Homo sapiens: one gene and its partners. The protein of the gene in region 1 interacts with the protein of each later gene in a biochemical or structural test. Each region holds a gene or a part of one and is shown in the gene's direction. Other genes may lie near its edges.

Region 1 (3,655 bases):
AGTCAGATATTGTTGTGTGTGTGTGGTGGTGCTTTTAAAATTCTGTTTTAGGTGATAGATGCATATAATGAAGAAAGAAAGAAGATAGGGCTGATCATTTTCACTTTGTTTTTCTGTTTGATAATTTTAAGGCCATGATCTGAGAAAAAGGAAATAAAACTATCTTTAAATCTAAAAAATTATTATTTCAGACCTTCCTGATCTTAGCTGCCTGATGTATATGAAATCAATTGATTTCAGCAGAGCTTTCTTATATCTGTCCTCACAATTGTTGTTGCTTCTTTTATATCTGATGGCAGGTTCCTATTTTCAGCTTTTTTAAAGTAGATTTTAAAAATATTTACAAAAGCATGTGTCATAGTTATTCATTCAATCGTGGCACTTCTAATTTCTACTCTAACTTTTTTCCCTTTTGATTTGAAAACCTCTTGGGGTTGTGGGATTGGAGAGGTATATAGGGCTAAGTGTTGAGAACAGGGAATTAGGTTAGTAATATTAGTCTGGCTGGGTAGATGTGAGTCCTGAGACAAAGTATGTTTCTCTGCTCTATCTCAGCTTTGTGTGAGCCCAGCCAGTTTGTGCCCCAGTGCCTTTGTCTGTAACTCGTATGACAATACTTCTTTGGAAAGTACTCCATATAATTATTTTGAATTCTGCTTTTTTGACCTAAAAATGACATCAGTGGATGCGCTTGTTTCACTCGCATCCTTATATGACACCATCTATGTTCTTTTTCTTACATATTAATATTTGCTTGCACAGCTTTTAAATTCTTGTCCAGTGGATACCAGCTACAGTTGGAACCAAATTATACATATTTTAAAACTTTGTTGTTAGGCCCAGTGGTATTCCTAAAATAACCTGTTGTAAAGTTCTGGTTTAGTGGTATGTAGCTGAAGTTACGTGCGTCTATTTTTTAAAAATAGAAATAATGTGGTGAATAAACTGTGATTAGCAACACACAACTTGCTGAAACAACGGTTTACCATATCATTCAAAAATGGTGTATCTTTTAGCATCTATATATTAAACCATCATGCCCTTAGGGTTCTAAGAACACAAATAGTGGGACATTAAAAAAAATGTGTAGATTAACCAAGAGGTAGGATCTTTTTGTTTTGTTTTGTTTTTACATGCATGCTTTCAGCTAAGCTGACATTTTGTCTTCAGAGTCATTGAACCTATTTTATTAAAAATCTTCCCATCACAGTACCTGTTTTATATTTTTTGCCCACTAATGTGACATAACTAGATCAATATCTATCTATAGGTATGTATCACGCCTGCTCAACATCACACTGCTAAGTGGCAGCTCCTGTTATTTGGAAATGGTTATACCACAGCAGTGTTAAAATGAATTTAAACGCAGTACCAATGTCACATGCAATGGAATTCAAGAGTGAAGCCTGTTGTTGGAATTATGTAACTGGCCGTTTAAATCCCAGTTGTATTAAGTGCCAAAGTGCATTGCAAAGGACAAGTTCTGTTTCACCCAAGTGGTAAAAGGCACAGTCAAAAGAAGTCGTGCATTTTTTTAGCTGTGGTAAAAAAAAAATACATAACCTAAAATGTACCATCTTACAGTTCAGTAGTGTTCTGTGTATCCATGTTGCTGTGGAAGGGCATGCATTTTTATGTTGCACGTGCTTTATGAAGACTAATAGGGATCTTTTTTTTGAATTTCTCCAGTGGTATTCTCTGATTTGGGGGTAATATTTGAGAACAGCCTTATATTTTTCCTCTTAGCACAACCTAAATAGAATTTGGAGCTTCTCCTATGACAGACTCTATGTGCAATTTATTGTTGGCCTGGTTAAGCAGCTGTAATGTTGTGTCATTAATACATTGATTTTGGCCCTCTTACTTTAATAAGCTTTGCCATTGCAATTAATTGTACTTAAAAAAAAATCCTGGCATTCACAAAGATTCAGTGAAAGGCATCAATTTTTATTACTCTGATGTTTACTTCTCAGCCCCTCCATTGGGGGTTTTAGAACTTTGGACTGTGTCTTATATGCATTTAAGAGCCATGTATTTAAATTTGGAGCACGGTTACATAAGCCACACTAGACTTGTTAATGAATAAGGCAGTCTAATTTACATCATTCATTATTTAATACAACTTGCAAGCTGGAGTTGAGAACATGCTGTCTTCATAGTGTAGGTATTTACAGACATCAGCTTGGCACAACTGTGTGGAGTCTTTTTAGTTTCATACCTTCAATCTCTGCAATATGGACACTTTTGTTACCCTGGGTAAAACAGTGGAAAAGCCTTGTGACCCTTTTGACCCTACTTTCTTCCACCTCCCCTTCCATCACCCATTATTTATACAGGAAAATGGGTTTGATTTTTTTCTTCTCTGAAAAGTGATATTTCCTTATGGGAATTCAGAATGCTGGAGTTAAGAGAAGAGCCTGGGCTGTATGTTATTACAAGCAAGTATTGGGAAGTTGAAGCAATGTGGTCCCAGTTCCCTAGTGTGGAGTTTAGGTCTGTTTAAGGTCTCTCACTGTTTCTATCCCATAAACCTCTGTTTGTGTCTGCTTCAATATTCCCTTATAAAGGTGTTTTCTAAGCTGAAGAGTTGGCTGAACAGCTGAGAGTTGAGGTCTCTTTCTCCCTAGTAATATTCTGTATGATCTCTTTGACTATATCTAGGTCATAGGAGTATAAAAACTAGTGTTTTTGTTTAGCTGGGGAAGGGGAATTGAATTTCTTTTCTCTTCTCCTTTCTTTCTTTCTTTCCTTTTTTTTTTTTTTTTTTTTTTTTTTTGCCTTGAGTGTTAAGCAAGTGCATCCAGTTTTAACTCATTGGTCATCTTGCCTGCTAGGGAAAAAAACATTATCAAACCATTATTGAATACCATAAACTGGCCTTATCCCTCTGGCTAACTTTACCACTTCTCTAGAGAGTTTCTTGTAGGTTCAAAAGCTATAGCGTAGGATGTGACATGAAAGACCTGCCCCTTGGAACAATGCCAATTTTTAGTTGCTTCTGATGCCTGTAATCAATAGGAGGATTTGGGGGAGAGACTATTGAAGCATGGCAAAGTTTTTACTTGTTTGATGTGTGTTTGTGAGAGAGAGAGAGAAAGATAGAGGGAAGAAAAAAAACCCTGAATCTTGGATTATTTATGGTTGATCAATCATTTTTATAGTCTACTTGGTTGAGCTATTTTAAAACAAATCCCACCTCAAGCCTCAAATGGCAAAGATCTGAGCTCCACTGTGGCCTGATAATTTTAGCTCACATTTGATTGCTGATCAATCTCCATTAGAAAAGTAAAGGTCCCATATAACTGGGTGCCTTCTCACCACTTACTTTGCTCTCTGGGGTGTCCAAAGGACTGGGAAGTTATAAATATTGATCTGGGAGATGGATGAGTGAATGTGCTCAAAGTTACAAAAATCTTGCAAAGAAAAGCAATGTGTAGATACTAAGTTTATTCCTTATGTGTTTCAAAAAATAAAAATAAAAAAGCATATCATGGAAAGCTGAAGTCAGGAGACCTGGAACTTCATCCCAATGTCACCACTACCCAGTCACTACCCAGTTACCTGATCTTGAAGCAGCCTTTTAATGTTTCTGGGCCTCAGCTTGTCACATGTAAACTGAGGGCTTTGGATTTGATGCTCAGACAAGTTTCTCAAG
Region 2 (3,655 bases), on another chromosome or scaffold:
TCGTACATTTTTCATATGTCAACCATGGACTGTGCTTTCTGTGTCTGTGATGCGTTCCTGAGTGTATAAAACTGAGAAAGTCCACAGTCCTGTAAGAAGTGCACCCCTGCTGTGTACCACCGAGTGTTAAGGAGGTTTCTGTTCACAGGTTCCTGGTGCATCGATACTCTGTGCTGCAGCAGCATGCAGAGGCCAATGGTGTGGATGGTGTGGATGCTTTGGACACAGCCTCCCACACTAATAAAAGTGGTTATCATGATGACTCAGATGAGGTGAGGCTATTTCTTCTTGAATGGTAGTACCCCCCCCCCCAAAAAATACAAGAAAATAAAGTCTGTCTTCTATTCATGATCAAGATATGCCAGGGCCAAGGCGACTTAATGACCATAAGATTTGGCAAGCCCAGAAACTAGGTGATTGCTTTTGAAATAGGAGTGTTGTGGTCTGTCGGTAATATGGTGCATGTCTTTTTCAGGACCTCTTGGAATAGCTCTTCAGAGGAGCTGGACCCAGCATGGATGGTGGAACCACAGTACCTCTTACACTCCCTGTGGCTCCAACTTCAGGAAATAAATTTCCCATTGCGAGGGACCCAGCTCTGTTTCTGCTGCTTCCATCAAAGCCAAAAGGACCTACACTAAAGAAATGCAGGGTGGGGGTGGGGAACCCTGAGCACTTTTTTACAATTGGCTCTGAGAAAAAGGGAGACATTTTAAATTCTTTAACTTCTTATTTCTCGTCCTGTCTCTTTGCAAAGTATGGGCTTTTTTGTTTTTGTTTTTTAAGGGAAACGAAATGGAATTCGAAGGGACCTTTTCACTAACCCCACTTCTGTGTGTTCTGCATGGCGCCTGCCCCAGGGCATCTGCCAACTCCAGTATCAGCTCTCACAGTGTACTTGGTACCATCCCTGGGCTCTGCTGGCGAGACGAAACAGCTGTAGAGATGAAAACAGGCTGCAGAGGCTGGCACAGCCTGGCCGGCTTTTCTCCATCTGGGGACAGTCCTACTCCAAGAACACTGCACACCAGCTCCTCACACAGATCCCACTTACTCTTTTTTTTTTTTTCAGAGACCACAGACCACAGTGATTTTTCTTTTCCCTTGTTTAATTAGGCAATACCCTTGTTAATTGCCCTTTGGCAACTAACTTAACCATGTGCTTCCCACACAGTACATCAGGAAAACTTACAGGGCAATATTTTTAACTTGGGGCAGGAAGAAGGGAGCAGCAGAGAATTGACTAGATATAGCACCTATTAAAAGAGAACTCTTGCTTCTTCTGAGATTTTTCAAGCTGTGCTTTGTGTGTGTGCCAGTAGACTTACGCAAGGACAGGGTACAAACTTAGCTGGAAGTCTGCCCAGGCTGAATGATCTCTTCCCTAGAGTTGATTGTCGGGTACACAGTGTGAACCCCCGAAGACGGAACCTCACAGTCTTCCATGTTCCCTTCTTAACTGTCGTGTGGCTCGTTGCTAAATCATGACAATGGCTGCCTATCTGCTGCTTCTTAGGTTGCTGTTGTACATGGAACCAGGACTAGAGATTTTTTCAGATTTATAGACTTAAAAAATTAGAATTTTATTACCAGGCTTTCCTTCTCACCCCTTTTTTCTGACTTTGCCAAGTAATTTGTTGACACGAAAATTTTGGAGGAACCAATTGAAAACACACTTCCAGTCTAGATGATGCTTTGTGTGATACATTAAGTTCTTATTTTGGATTAAAAGAAGTTTTCCATTTGATACCTCTCTAAATTAAATAAATTATAGAATGTAGTTGGGTGGATTTTGGGGTGGCCATATAGTAATGGAAAGCTGCAATAATTAGTTTTAATACAGCTTGAATATTTGCTATATAGAAATATAGTATGGAAAGTTTTTGGTCTTAATGTAGCTACTGTGCGGGTCACAGTTTCTCCCAATGATTATGACTGGGACATTCTTTGGTAGATACCATTTGCTACTAGTTTATTTTGTGGCTAGAAAGTCAGTTTTGTGTGTTTTTTTTTTTTTTTATTTGAAGTGCCAAATTAACTTTAGTCAGAATGTGAGCAGATGGCTAAGTTCTCTCCTCCCCAGAATGGATTAACAGCTGCGTGGAAAGTGGGGGAGAGAGTGGATGGAGACTTTTAGAGATGTTAAAACTGCAGTAGAATGAAATGAGTCAGGGAGCTTCAGTTAGAAAATAAAGTTGAGGCAGTTTTTGTGAAGATAATATGGTTAGGGCTGGAGTGCACTAGTCTTTTTGCTTATTCATTTTGCATGGTTTTAAAATTAAAAATAATTCCGAAGATACACCAGCTCACAAATGAAAACGTCAGCCTCTGCCCCACCCTCCCTCCTGCCCAAAGTGAATTTGGTACTCAGAAAAGAACTGTTTATACCACTCACCTTTCTCCCAGCATGTACTCACTGTGGGCAGATGCACCAATACATGGTAATCCTCTTACTCATTTTAAGACGTAGGAAACTCAATATTCTTCTCTAACCATATACGATAGGGCTCTTCGCTTTTAATGATATCTGGGATTTCTGTGGAACTTGGCAAATTTTCAGAGCACCTTCACTCACATAATGTCATTTGAACCTCACAATGTTCTTGGGATGGAGTCAGTTGTTCAGGGTCCCCGTGTGTGTGATAAGCAGTGCTGGCTGGCTGTCTTCAGAACTCTTGGAAATCTTTACACATGCGAGTGCTAACCACTTTGAGCAAGGCTGCCTTCTTGTAGATGACTTGCTGTTCTTTATGACAGGGATCAGTGGCATTTGTTTCCTAGCAGTATTTAGCACCTTTTTGCCACCTTGGTGAACAGAAAATTGTATTTTCCTGTCTTTCATGGCTGAAAACAAAAGTAATGGGAATTTTAAATACGTTTGCAGAAACTGCCCCTCCCCTCATTGAGGGTCACTGCTCAAGAGTGCAGGAGTGGACTCTCCACTGATGGGTCTCCCTCCCCATCCTGGTTTCCACCCCGGGCTGGCTAGCTCTGTTGGTTTGAAGACTGACAGCCAGCCTGGCTCATTCTCATTATTGGCTAGTTAGCTTTCTTTATCAACCTGCTCACTCACAAATGTGTGCCCTCAGCCAGAGAGTAAGAAAGCCCAAATCTGTTACAGCTTCTAAAAAAATAGATTTCTAATTTGTCCTACTCATGTTAGGAGCATTATCTTTGAAGGTAAAACATAGTGTATCATTGTGTAAACTCCCAGGCTTGATGTAGCAGAAGAGATCATTTCTGGAGGCTTCAGCAATGGAATTTAGCATTATAAGAGAGATTGGACAAACCAGTCCAAAGTGGTCCGAGTTCTTAAATCCAGGTAGGGAACTCACTCTTCTTTCTTCTCTGGACCTAATTGGGCATTGGGCTTTAGTGAGACCACAGACCAGGCCCGTCTCTCCTGTAGGCTTTTAATTCAATGGCAACTCTATTTCAAAGAATAAAAGCCTTTGGAGAGTTGCGGCAGTTCTGGGGGCGGGCTCAGGAGAGTCCATAGATCAGCCGTAACTGGAACGTAGAATCTACGTCTGCCTCTGAATGGACTTCCCACCTCCTCTCTCTTGCTCTGATGCTTGCCTCTGGGCCTCTCCATGCCCAAGGTGGTCTTTCATCCTTGACAGGCTGGTAATGTGCTGGCCACCTCCAGCTCCTG
Region 3 (3,672 bases), on another chromosome or scaffold:
CGTAAAATGCTGCTGCCACTTTGGAAAACAATTTGGCAGTTCCTCAAAAAATTAACCAGAGTTACCATATGACCCAGAAATTTCACACTTAGGTATATACCCAACAGAAATGAAAACATGTTTACAGAAAATCCTGTACATAAATGTTCATAGCAGCATTACTGATGACAGCCAAAAGTGGAAACAAGCCAAATGTCCATCACTGGATGGATTAAGGAAATGTGGTATATCCTATACAATGGAATATTATTTGGCAATAAAAAGGAATGAAGTACAGATACATGCTATGACATGAATGAAACTTGAAAACATTATGCTGAATAAAAGAAAATAAAAACAGAAGGTCATATATTCTATGATTCTGTTTATTAAAATACCCAGAATAGGCCAGGCACTGTGGCTCACGCCTGTAATCCCAGCACCTGGGGGAGCCGAGGCAGGTGGATCACTTGACGTCTGGAGTTTGAGACCAGCCTGGGCAATATAGCAAAACCCCATCTCAACCAAAATACACAAAAATTATTGGGGCATGGTGGTGCACACCTGTGGTCCCAGCTACTCGAGGGAGGGAGGAGGGAAGATCACTTGAGCCAGGGAGGTTGAGGCTGCAGTGAGCTGAGATTGCACCATTGCACTCCAGCCTGAGCAAGAGTGAGATATTGTCTCAAAAAATAAAATAAATAAAATTTTAAAAATACGCAGAATAGGCACATCTATAGAAATATATAAAGTAGAGGCCAGGAGAAGTGGTTCATGCCTGTAATCCGAGCACTTTGGGAGGCCAAGGTGGGTGCGCCACTTGAGGTCAGGAGTTCAAGACCAGCCTGGTCAACATGGTGAAACCCCACCTCTACTAAAAATACAAAAATACACCTGTAGTCCCAGCTACTCGGGAGGCTGAGTTACGAGAATCCCTTGAACCTGGGAGGCGGAAGTTGCAGTGAGCTGAAATCATGCCACTGCACTCCAGCCTGGGCAACAGAGCAAGACTCTGTTAAAAAAAAAAAAAATAGCGAGAGATCGAGAGAGAGTGCACGTGAGAAGACTAGTAGTTGCTATGGACTGGGGGAGAAGGAACGGGTTACAGGGTTTCTTTTGGGGATAACGAAAATGTTCTAAAACTGGACTGTGGTGATAACTGCACAACTCTGTGAATGTACTAAAAACTACTGAACTGGCCAGGCACAGTGGCTCACACCTGTAATCCCAGCACTTTGGGAGGCCCTGAGATGGGCAGATCACTTGAGGTCAGGAGTTCCAGACCAGTCTGGCCAACATGGTGAAACCACATCTCTACTAAAAATATTTTTAAAAATTAGCCAGGCATGGTGGTGCACCTGTAATCCCAGCTACTTGGGAGGCTGGGGCATGAGAATCATTTGAAACCAGGGGGTGGAGGTTGCAGTGAGCCGAGATCACACCACCGCACTCCAGCCTGGGCGACAGAGCCAGACTCTGTCTCAAAAACAAACAAAACAAAAACAACAAAAAACACAACTGAACACATTTAAGGTGAATTCTGTGGTATGTGAACTATCTCTAAGAACTTCTTTTTATTTAAGTTGGGAAACAAAAAGATCATGTACAACAAACCAAAAACAAAAAAGTTATTTCTAACCCATGTAACATATAACAAGGATCTAGAACATGTAAATGACTCTTTCCAATCAATAAGAAGAAAAATAACCCAGTTTGTAAAAAATGTGCAAAAGACAAATATTTCATACAATAGGAAAAACTAAAATGAGATAATTTTGTATCCATTAGATGGCAAAAATTAAGAAGTCTGATGATCCTGGTAGGGGTATGTATTGGTATAATCACTTGTAGAAAGTTAAATATGCACATACTTTATGATCTAAGTGACCTCACTCCTAAGTATATACATGAGAGAAACTCTTATGCACATATATATGCAGGAATGTCTGCATAATGTTGTTCATGCCAGCAAAAATTTGGAAACAATGAAATATCAATAGGAAAATGGATAATTTATGATATATTCACACAATATACATCATAGGCTAGTGAAATTATAACCACATGCAACAATATGGATATATCTTTAAAATATTTAATGAAAAAGTATGCTTGGCGCGGTAGCTCACACCTGTAATCCCAGCACTTTGGGAGGATGAGGGAGGTGGATCACCTGAGGTCATGAGTTCGAGACAAGAGCGAAACTGTCTAAAAAAAAAAAAAAAAAAAAGAGTGAAGAATCAAGCCACAGAAGGTAATTTAAAAATGTACACTCAAGATTTAAAAAGAACTACAATTCCATAAGAAAAAGGCAGGCCACAGAATAGGAAAAAGAATAAAAGACTTGTTTAGGCATTTCACAAAAGAAAGTATACAAATTTAAGTAGTTATTTAAACCACAATGCCATTCTACTATATGGGCAACCAGAAGGGCCAAAACAAAACGAACAAAAGACTACCAAGTGTTAACAAGGATTTAAGGCAACTGAAACTTCCAGTCATTGCTGGTGGGGGTATGAATTGGTACAGTCGCTTTGGAAAGCTACTGAGCAGTATGTACTAAAGCCAGACATATGCGTATTTCTGAACCAGGAGTTTCACTCCTAGGTATGTACTCAAAAGAACTGTGTACACTATGTTCACCAAAAAACAAGAATGTTTATAGCAACCCTCTTTGCATTAGTCAAAAGCTAGTAATTACCCAAAAGTTCCTGAATGGTAGAATGAATTACTAAATTGTAGTATTTTCATACAATGGAATACTATACAGCAATGAGAATGAATAAATTACAATATAAACAACAATATGGATGAACATTACATAATTTTGAATGAAAGGAGCCAGACACAAAAAAAGGATATACTGTACAATTCCATTTATACGAAGCATAAAATCAGGCAAAAATCTATAAATCTGTCCTGCCAGAAGTCAGTGGTTTTCCAGACTCGAAGGCAGGTACAAGCACAGTTAGGGTGCTGGTAACATTCTGTTTAAACTCTGTTCTGCTGGTTACATGGGTATGTTCACTTGAAAATCCATCAAGTTTTATCCTCATGGTTTGTGTACTTTTCTGTATATATGTTTCACTTCAATAAAGTTTATTTTTGGTCAAGGGCAGTGTCTCATACCTGTATTCCCAGCACTTTGAGAGGCCGAGGCAGCCCGACTGCTTAAGCCCAGGAGTTCCACAGCAGCCTGAGGAACATGGAGAAACCCTTCTCTACAATTTTTTTTCTTTTTGAGATGGGAGTCTCGCTGTGTCACCAGGCTGGAGTGCAGCGGCGCGATCTCGGCTCACTGCAACCTCCGCCTCCTGGGTTCAAGTGATTCTTCCTCAGCCTCCCAAGTAGCTGGGATTACAGGCGCATGCCACCACACCCAGCTAATTTTTTTTATTTTTAGTAGAGATGGGGTTTCACCATGTTGGCCAGGATGGTCTCCATCTCCTGACTTCGTGATCTGCTTGCCTCAGCCTCCCAAAGTGCTGGGATTACAGGCGTGAGCCACCACCCCTGGCCTACAAATTTTTTTAAAAAATTAGCTGGGCATGATGGCACTTGCCTGTCGTCCCAACCACTCAGGAGGCTGAGATGCGAGAATCACTTGAGCTCAGGTGGTGGAGGTTGCAATGAGCCGAGATTGTGCACCACTACTTCAGCCTGGGAAAAAGAGAGAGACACAGTCTAAAAAAA

What was found.
Region 2: the proteins of NTRK2 (region 1) and SORT1 form a complex in vitro, tested with the Homo sapiens proteins (one study listed by BioGRID and IntAct).
Region 3: the proteins of NTRK2 (region 1) and USP8 form a complex in vitro, tested with the Homo sapiens proteins (one study listed by BioGRID).

The regions. Positions count from the first base shown.
Region 1 is NC_000009.12:84,672,576-84,676,230, forward strand, and holds part of NTRK2 (BDNF/NT-3 growth factors receptor isoform a precursor), read left to right. Parts: intron 1-3,655. UniProt on the Homo sapiens protein: Receptor tyrosine kinase involved in the development and the maturation of the central and the peripheral nervous systems through regulation of neuron survival, proliferation, migration, differentiation, and synapse formation and plasticity.
Region 2 is NC_000001.11:109,310,878-109,314,532, reverse strand, and holds part of SORT1 (sortilin isoform 1 preproprotein), read left to right. Parts: intron 1-148; coding exon 149-272; intron 273-475; coding exon 476-490; 3' UTR 491-3,655.
Region 3 is NC_000015.10:50,511,330-50,515,001, forward strand, and holds the end of USP8 (ubiquitin carboxyl-terminal hydrolase 8), read left to right. Parts: 3' UTR 1-3,092; downstream 3,093-3,672. UniProt on the Homo sapiens protein: Hydrolase that can remove conjugated ubiquitin from proteins and therefore plays an important regulatory role at the level of protein turnover by preventing degradation. Converts both 'Lys-48' an 'Lys-63'-linked ubiquitin chains.